Regions from separate parts of the Homo sapiens genome. Here region 1 is linked to region 2. Evidence: fine-mapped expression QTL. A gene starts in region 2. The other region holds a variant in brackets. All regions are shown on one strand. Distances are from middle to middle.

Region 1 (4,393 bases), 360 kb before region 2:
TTCTCCACCATGACTATTTTGGGAAACACTTTTATTCTCAGTAAGTCAATAATTTGAGCATTTTATCATCTCCATGTCTTGAATTGACCTTGAAATTACCATTTGTCTAAAATTATTACTATGTATATGTTTTCTTCCAGGCTTAGAGTGGACATTGCCCCGGTCACGATCTATGACAATAATGGTGCTATTATGTTCCTACAGTGTTGGGCAGATGCTCCTAGGAGGGCTGGCTTTTGCCATTCAGGACTGGCACATATTGCAACTGACTGTGTCTACACCCATAATTGTCCTCTTCTTGTCCTCTTGGTATGAACAATCTCCACATTCTTTGCCTGTAAGCGAGGCTATGGTAGACATAGAAAGGAAAATTCTGACACCTGGGATCTGTTCGGTCTCTGGCCTAGTCCTGAGCCATGATGTCCATAGTACCTATTGTGTCACCTGAGAAGCAAACAATGGAATAGGATGACACTATATGTGGGGAGGCTGGCACTTTGCATTCATTATTTTAGACATGGAATTATCATGAAATTATTTTTCTTAATAGAAAAAATACCCACTTATTTTTGAAGCAAATGTATTATTTATCTAACTTTTGGAATATTATGTGATGGAGATAATTTGGGGGCTTTTGTCATTGTAACTGAGATTGAATATAAGGAAAACACAATAAATTTATCTACATAACTATTTAAAATTAGAAGAGCATGCTGTCTCTAGCACCAAGAGTTAGGATGGGGGCGACTTCAGGGAACTTGACAGAGTAGGATCTCCAAAAATTGGTTCCTCCATAAAAGCAACACAAAACTAGCAAAAAGTTGTCAAAATCATCTCTTTCAGAACTCTGAAAATTAACCAAAGACTTGCAGCAATTTAGGGAATCTTTTGTTGAAGAAAAACTGAGTCCCAGTAAGAAAGTGAATGTTGGGATGTTTTTAACATATCTTAGTTTCAGTTCCTACTCTCCAGCTATGCTGCAGCCTTGAAAAAAAAATAACAGCTAACATTCTTGGTACTAGAGGGAGGAGGACAGAGCTTGAGTTATTTCAAAACCTCATTCACAAAAAGCTGTCATTATTATACCTTTCTGCTGGCTCCCCTAAGACCCTATTTGGAAGGCTGTCTCTATTTGACCTGACTCAAAGTTGCCTAGTGTGAGAAGGCTCCCCTCATAAGGCATTTGTCAAACATATTTACTGACAAATGTTTTGAGGTCACAGCTGTCTGAAGTGATGGATAACAATTTGGGAAAATAATATAATTAACAAAGAGTTGAAAATTAGAAGCTGAGGAACAAAATACAGTTGACCCTTGAACAGTGCAGAGTGTTGGGGGCGCCAACACCCCATGCACTCAAAAATCTGCATATAAATTTTGACTCTAAAAACTGAACTACTTATAGCCTACTCTTGGCTGGCAGCCTTAACAATAACATAAACAGTTATTAACACATATTCTGTGTGTTATATGCATTATATACTATATTCTTATGGTAAAGTAAGCTAGAGAAAAGAAAATGTTATTAAGAAAAGCGTAAGGAAGAGAAAATGTATTTACTATTCATTAAGTGGAAATGGATTATCATACAGGTCTTAATCCTTAACATCTTCATGTTAAGTAGGCTGAGGAGAGGAAAGAAGAGGAGGAGTTGGTCTTGCCATCTCAGGGGTGGCAAAGATAGAAGAGGTAGATGAGGTGAAAGGGGAAGTCCCTAAGCTCTCACCTCTGGATGATCTTGGGGCTCTGCATATGCAGTTGGTGGAGGCTAAGGCAGAGATGTAAACTGCCTGACTGAGTGTCACATACTCAGAGCCTCTCAATAAAGACTGGGAGAAGTATTGGTTGCAGACAACTAACTTAATAGCTGAGCACTAAGCTAACCAAGTAGAGATTCAGTGGCCACACATGACGAATACTGATTTTACAGAATTCGTTAACAAAAAGCCACTAACCAAACAAACAATCACTACAACAGGGAGCAACAACAACAAACATTGAGAAAGAGGGAAGAATATGATTTCCAGAATTGTTACATTATATGTTTAAAAGGCCTAGTTTTCAACAAAGGAGCCATGGAAGAAAACATGAAAGCATGACTTCTACACAGGAAGAAAAGGCAATCAGTACAAACTATACCTGACAAGCCAGATGTTGGCTTATGAGACATAGGATTTGAATCAACTAAGTTAAATATGCTCAAGAATTAAAGAAAACCATGTCTAAATAAGTAACAAAAAAATACAAAAAAAAGATGTCTCCAAATAGAAAACATCATTGAAGATGGAAATGTTTAAAAGGAGCCAAATAGAAATTCTAGAGTTGAAATGTTCAGAAGTGAAAATTTATTGGATG[G/A]TCAAAACAGAAGAGTTGGGCAGGCAGAAAAAAAGCAGTAAATTTGAAGACAGTGTTGAGATTATCCAGTTTAGTGAATAAAATAAGTAAGGAGGAGCAGAGTTTTGAGGACATGTGAGACTCTATCAAGGGTATCAACATATGCATTTTGTAGTCCCAGAAGGCGAGGGCTGAGAAAAAGGAACAAAGTATATTTTTAAAAATAATGGCTAATAAAACAAATATGTTGGAAACATTAATCTACACACCCAAGAAATTCAAAAACTGTAATTCAGATAAACTGAAAAGATCCATACCTAGACACAGTATAATCAAGCTACCAAAATCCAAAGAAAGATTTTTAAAACCATCAAAAGAAAAGCTAACTCATCATGGAAAAGAGATCCTCAATAAGATTAATAGTTGATTTATCAACAGAAAACAGAGTCTGCAAGGCAGTGGGATTAATTATTCAAAGTGTTGAAAAAAAAATCTGCCAGAGCCTTCTGGTTCTAGGTGCTTTGGGAGCTGCGGCTTAAGGTGCAGACATAACCAAGTCCAAGAACCATACCAAACACAACCAGTCCGAAAAATGGCACAGAAATGGTATCAAGAAACCCTGATCACAAAGATATGAATCTCTTAAGGGTGTGGACCCCAAGTTCCTGAAGAATATGCGCTTTGCCAAGAAGCACATCAAGAAGGGCCTAAAGAAGATGCAGGTCAACAATGCCAAGGCCATGAGTGCACATGCCAAGGCTATCAAGGCCCTCATAAAGCCCAAGGAAGTTAAGCTCAAGATCCCAAAGAGTGTCAGCAACAAGCTCGATTGACTTGCCTACATTGCCCACCTCAAGCTTGGGAAGTAGGCTCTTGCCCATGTTGTCAAGGGGCTCGGGCAGTGCCAGCCAAAGGCCAAGGGTCAAACCAAGGCCCAGGCTGCAGCTCCAGCTTCAGTTCCAGCTCAGGCTCCCAAAGGTGCCCAAGCCCCTACAAAGACTTCAGAGTGGATATCTCTGTCTACCAAGGTGAGGACAGAAGGAATGGTGCAACCTCCCCAATAGGCTGCCATCTGCATGGGGCTGGGGTCCTCTGGTGCTATTTGTACAAGTAAACCTGAAAAAAAAAATCTGTCAGCAGAGAATTCTACATCTGCCCATATAAAAAAAACAAAACCGGGTCTTCCATTCCAAGATGGTCGAATAGGAACAGCTCTGGTCTGCAGATCCCAGTGTGATCGATGCAGAAGATGGGTGATTTCTGCATTTCCAACTGAGGTACCTTGTTCATATCACTGGGACTGCTTGGACAGTGGGTGCAGCTCATGGAGGGTGAGCTGAAGCAGGGCGCAGTGTTGCCTCACCTGGGAAGTGCAAGGGGTTGGGGGATTTCCCTTTCCTAGCCAAAGGAAGCCATGACAGACTGTACCTGGAAAAATGGGACACTCCTGCCTAAATACTGTGCTTTTCCCAAGGTCTTAGCAACCAGCAGACCAGGAGATACTCTCCCATGCCTGGCTCACTGGGTCCCATGCCCACGGAGCCTTGCTCACTGCTAGCACAGCAGTCTGAGATCGACCTGCAAGGCAGTAGCCTCATGGGGGGAGGGGTGTCTGCCATTGCTGAGGCTTGAGTAGGTAAATAAAGTGGCCAGGAAGCTCGAACTGGGTGGAGCCCACCACAGCTCAGCCAGGCCTACTGCCTTTCTAGATTCCACCTCTGTGGGCAGGGCATAGATGAACAAAAGGCAGCAGAAACTTCAGCAGACTTAAACGTCTCTGTCTGACAGCTTTGAAGAGACCAGTGGTTCTCCCAGCACAGTGTATGAGCTCTGAGAATGGACAGGCTGCCTCCTCAAGTGGGTCCCTGAACCCTATGTAGCCTAACTGGGAGACACCTCCCAGTAGGGGCTGACAGACACCTCATACAGGCAGGTGCCCTTCTGAGACGAAGCTTCCAGAGGAAGGATTAGGCAGCAATATTTGCTGTTCTGCAAAACCTCCACTGGTGATACCCAGGCAAACAGGGTCTGGAGTGGACCTCCAGCAAACTCCAACAGA
Region 2 (4,339 bases):
CCAGAACCCAACCCAGATCTTCCGAGAGACTACCCCACTGCCTCCCCTATGTATGGTCTCACCTTGTTGACCTGAGTGACAACAGCATCCACGACCTCCCCTTTAAATGGCCGGAAAACAATGGCCTTGTACTTAACTGGATAAAGGACAAAGCCTCGGCCTGGCTGGATCACACCAGCACCAATATTGTCAATGGTGGTGACAGCAATTACAAAGCCATACCTGCAAGGAGGATGAGAAACAGGAAGACACTGTGTGTCCAAGAGCCTCTAAAGACATCTGCAATAAAAGTCGCTGAGCTCTTGGGGGTAGGGTCGGGGAGAGCAAAAGGACAAGTAGATAGCACCTCTGCTCCCAGAGAGCTTAATGACCAAAAGAAGACAGAACAGAGATCAGTATGTGTAAGACCAAATGCTGTTCTGGTAATTTCACAATAAATGTCCAAGAAGGCTGGAGTCCTTGAGGCAACAGATCTCAATCTTCGGGATGCCTGAGAATCATCTTCTTAAAATGCAGATTCTCAGGTCTGCCCCAGACAGTCTTGATTCTGTAGGGAATAAGGAGGCTCAGGAATCTGCATGTTCCTGCAGGTTTTTCTGATGCTGGAGGCCCAAGTACTCCACTGCCCTGAGCTGGGTCCCAGCTCATTAATATCAGAGAGGCCCCTCTGTGCAAAGCCCAGAGATGGTCAAATCCCAGGCTACTTCCTTCCTCCCCCAAACTCTCGATCTGCTTTTTCTGGTCATTCATTCAGAAGATATATAGAGGCCCATGGTGTGTGGTCCCTGGGCACAGGGGATAAGAGAAAACCAGCAGAATGACAGAGGGAGAGCAGACACAGGAACAATGATTACACTGTGAGCTCCACAGGGGCTGTCCTCATTCTATCTTGTTCCCATTCTACCTTGTTCTGAGCCCAACACGGGTCCTGGCACACACCAAGGGTTTTTAAAATGTTTGAGGAGTCAATGAATGACCCATCTCAGCTGAGAGAAGGAAGTCTTATTGTCCAGCATTGCAGAGGGCGCCCTGGGAACCCAAAGCAGGAAGCAACTGGCTGCCTGAGAGAGGAGAGGGGTCCCCAGAGTGGGTGGCAGGACGAGTAGGAGTTGGGGAGGGGTTGCAGGTATAGCGCCCCGTGTGCGCATCGAACGATCTGGCGGTGCGGTGAGCTCGACACTCACTTCCCTGTGCAGGTCCCCTCCACCTCGGTGAAGAGCTTCTGCTTCACCGTGTTGAGCAAGTTGGGGCCGAAGTAGCGCGGGTGCAGCAGGATTTCGTGCTCTAGGGAGATCTGCGGAGAAAAGTGGGATGGCGACCAGGCCAGGCGCTGGCAGGTTATTGGACGACAAGGGGAGTCTCGCGCCGGCGCCTGGCCTTGCTCTTCCTTTCCACCCAGCCCTTGCCGCCACCCTGAGCCCTGCTCACATGGTAGAACATCTTCCCAGACCAGGTAGGCAGGCAGAGTCCACACCTCCGACAGTCCCTGGGAATCCACCGGAAACACTTAGACGCCGCAACCCCAGTTCCGCGCTTGCTGCGACTAGGAGGGCGGAACACCACCTCCTCCGCGAGGGCGGAACTCCACCAGCTCCGCGGGTCTGATTGGGCCTCGCCGTCGTGGGCGAGAACCACTAAGCCCCGCCCCTCACCCCCGCCCCCCAGCCATCAAACGACAACTTTTTTTTTTGAGGCGGAGTCTCCCTCTGTTGCCCAGGCTGGAGTGCAGTGGCGCGATCTCGGCTCACTGCAACCTCCGCCTCCCGGGTTCAAGCGATTCTCCTGCCTCATCCTCCCGAGTAGCTGGGATTAAAGGCATGTGCCACCACACCTGACTAATTTTGTATTTTTAGTAGAGATGGGGTTTCTCCATGTTGGTCAGGCTGGTCTCAAACTCCCAACCTCAGGTGATCCACCCACCTCGGCCTCCCAAAGTGTTGGGATTACAGGAGTGAGCCACCGCGCCCGGTCGGCAACTATCTGAATTGCTTGAACCTGGGAGGCGGCCCGAGATCTTGCCACTGAACTCCAGCCTGGGCAACAAGAGCGAAACTCCATCTCAACAGATAGATAGATAGATAGATAGATAGATAGATAGATAGATAGATAGATAGATAATAGATAGATAGATAGATAGATAGATAGATTGATAAATGCTACCACTTACTGCTTTCTTCCTAGATGCCTGGGCAACAAGAGCGAAACTCCATCTCAATAAATAAAATAAATAAATAAATAAATGCTATCACTTACTACTTTCTTCCTAGATGCCAGACACTGTGCTAAGCGCTTGATATAATTCTCTCCCTTAATTCTCATAATAATCTACAGAAATTGGTGTAGAAATAAAAAAAAAATGTTTACGAGCCTTAGCCAAAAGGCCAAGAAGCTACAGAAAATAATGAAATTTAGGCCGGGCGCTGTGGTTTACGCCTGTAATACCAGCACTTTGAGAGGCCGAGGCGGGCAGATCATGAGGTCAGGAGATTGAGACCATCCTGGCTAACATGGCGAAACCCCGTCTCTACTAAAAATACAAAAAATTGGCCGGGCGTGGTGGCAGGCGTCTGTAGTCCCAGCTACTCAGGAGGCTGAGGCAGGAGAATCGCTTGAACCCGGGAGGCGGAGGGTGCAGTGAGTTGAGATCGCGCCACTGCACTCCAGCCTGGCGACAAAGCAAGACGGAGTCTCAAAAAAAAAAAAAAATTTAAGAGCTATTGGAAGCCCAAAAAACACTTTAAGCCTCGAGAGAGATATGACTGCGAGTCACATATAGTTTACAACTTCTGTTCTCAGATTATAGATTAACTCTTTTTTTTTTTTTTTTTTTTTTTGAGACGGAGTCTTGCTGTGTCGCCCAGGCTGAAGTGTAGGAAATCCATGACTATTTCATCCTCTGTTAAAAAATGTTACATGCGCCGGGCACTGGTGGCTCATGCCTGTAATCCCGGCTACTCGGCTACTGGGGAGGCTGGGGCAGGACAATTGCTTGAACCCGGGAAGCTGAGATTGCAAAGAGCCGAGATCGCTCCACTGCACTTCAGCCTGGGATGCAGAGCAAGACTCCCTCTCTCTTTTTTTTTTTTTAATAGAGACGGGGTTTCTCCATGTTGGTCAGGCTGGTCTCGAACTCCCGACCTCAGGTGATCCGCCCACCTCGGCCTCCCAAAGTGCTGGGATTACAGGCGTGAGCCACCGCGCCCGGCTGACTCCCTCTCAAAAAAAAAAAAAAAAAAAAAAAAAAAAAAAAAAAAAGTTACATGCAAATCACGAGATCAGAAGTTCAAGACCAGCCTGGCCAAAATAGTGAAAACCCATCTCTACTAAAAATACAAAAAATTAGCCGTGTGTGGTGGCAGGTGCCTGTAATCCCAGCTACTCCAGAGGCTGAGGCAGAAGAATGTCTTGAACCCGGGAGGCGGAGGTTGCAGTTAGGCAAGATCTTGACACTGCACTCCAGCCCAGGCAACAGTGCGAAACTCCAAATAAAAAAAAATTGGAAAAAAAAAGTTACATGTATACTTCCCAAAAAGAAACATTGTCTATAGCCAACCAAATTGCTATAACTATGTACCAATCTTCTGTGAAAAATGTAATCCTGCTAAAAAGTCATGTGTGCTTGCCTATATAAATGAAATCTTAACTTTCTTACTTCACAACACTGACTCCATTCTTCTGGAGTTGGTGGTTCCAGGTGTTCCATTCTCATACTTCGCACTTGAAAAAACTCTAAATTAGGTTCTGACCCGTCGGATTATTTTAGGTTGACACTGATACTATTATTATTCCTACCTTATACATAAGCCAGAAAAAGATTAAGGGGAGGTATTTGGGTATGAATAGCTGACCTGCTCCAAAGCTTGTGTTCCTTTTTTTTTTCTTTTTTCTTTCTTTCTTTTTTTTTTTGAGTTGGAGTCTCACTCTGTCGCCTAGGCTGGAACTTAGTGGTGCAATCTCGGCTCGCTGCAACCTCCGCCTCCCAGATTCAAGTGATTCTCCTGCCTCAGCCTCCCAAGTAGCTGGGATTACAGGCGCCCACCACCACGCCCAGCTAATTTTTTTTTTTTTTGTATTTTTAGTAGAGACCAGGTTTCACCATGTTGGCCAGGCTGGTCTCGAACTTCTGACCTTAGGTAATCCATCTGCCTCAGCCTCCCAAAATGCTGGGATTACAGGCCTGAGCCACTGCGCCCGGCCCCACCTTTTTTTTTTCTTGAGAAAGGGTCTCATTCTGTCACCCAGGCTGCCAGGCTGGAGTGCTCATTGCATTCCCCAGCTACAGGTATGGGTCACCATGCGCGGGTAATTTTTTATTTTTTGCAGAGATGTGGGTCTTACT

Direction of the effects. Alleles are on the strand shown, and positions count from the first base shown. SD is a standard deviation of normalised expression in the study named.
In carriers of allele G in region 1, the expression in prefrontal cortex of the gene that starts at base 1,509 in region 2 tends to be higher than with A alone (moderate effect, 0.64 SD a copy in GTEx).

What was found. PIP is the estimated chance that this variant, and not a neighbour inherited with it, causes the effect. A credible set is the group of variants that fine-mapping cannot tell apart.
Region 1: its variant is the best candidate, but not a certain one, in a credible set for the expression of POLR2G in prefrontal cortex (GTEx, PIP 0.78).

What each region holds. Positions count from the first base shown.
Region 1 is chr11:63,114,828-63,119,220 of GRCh38, reverse strand. It overlaps SLC22A24 (solute carrier family 22 member 24), which reads left to right. Exons shown (of 10, transcript NM_001136506.2): 3 at 1-40; 4 at 141-309. It also overlaps the pseudogene RPL29P22. Among named protein-coding and RNA genes, the nearest start is that of SLC22A24, 27 kb to the left of the region's middle. The variant G/A (reference allele first, on the strand shown) is at 2,356.
Region 2 is chr11:62,758,750-62,763,088 of GRCh38, reverse strand. POLR2G (RNA polymerase II subunit G) reads right to left here and starts at 1,509. Exons shown (of 8, transcript NM_002696.3): 1 at 1,429-1,509; 2 at 1,185-1,294; 3 at 63-222. The coding sequence starts at 1,440. RefSeq lists an enhancer at 1,301-1,500.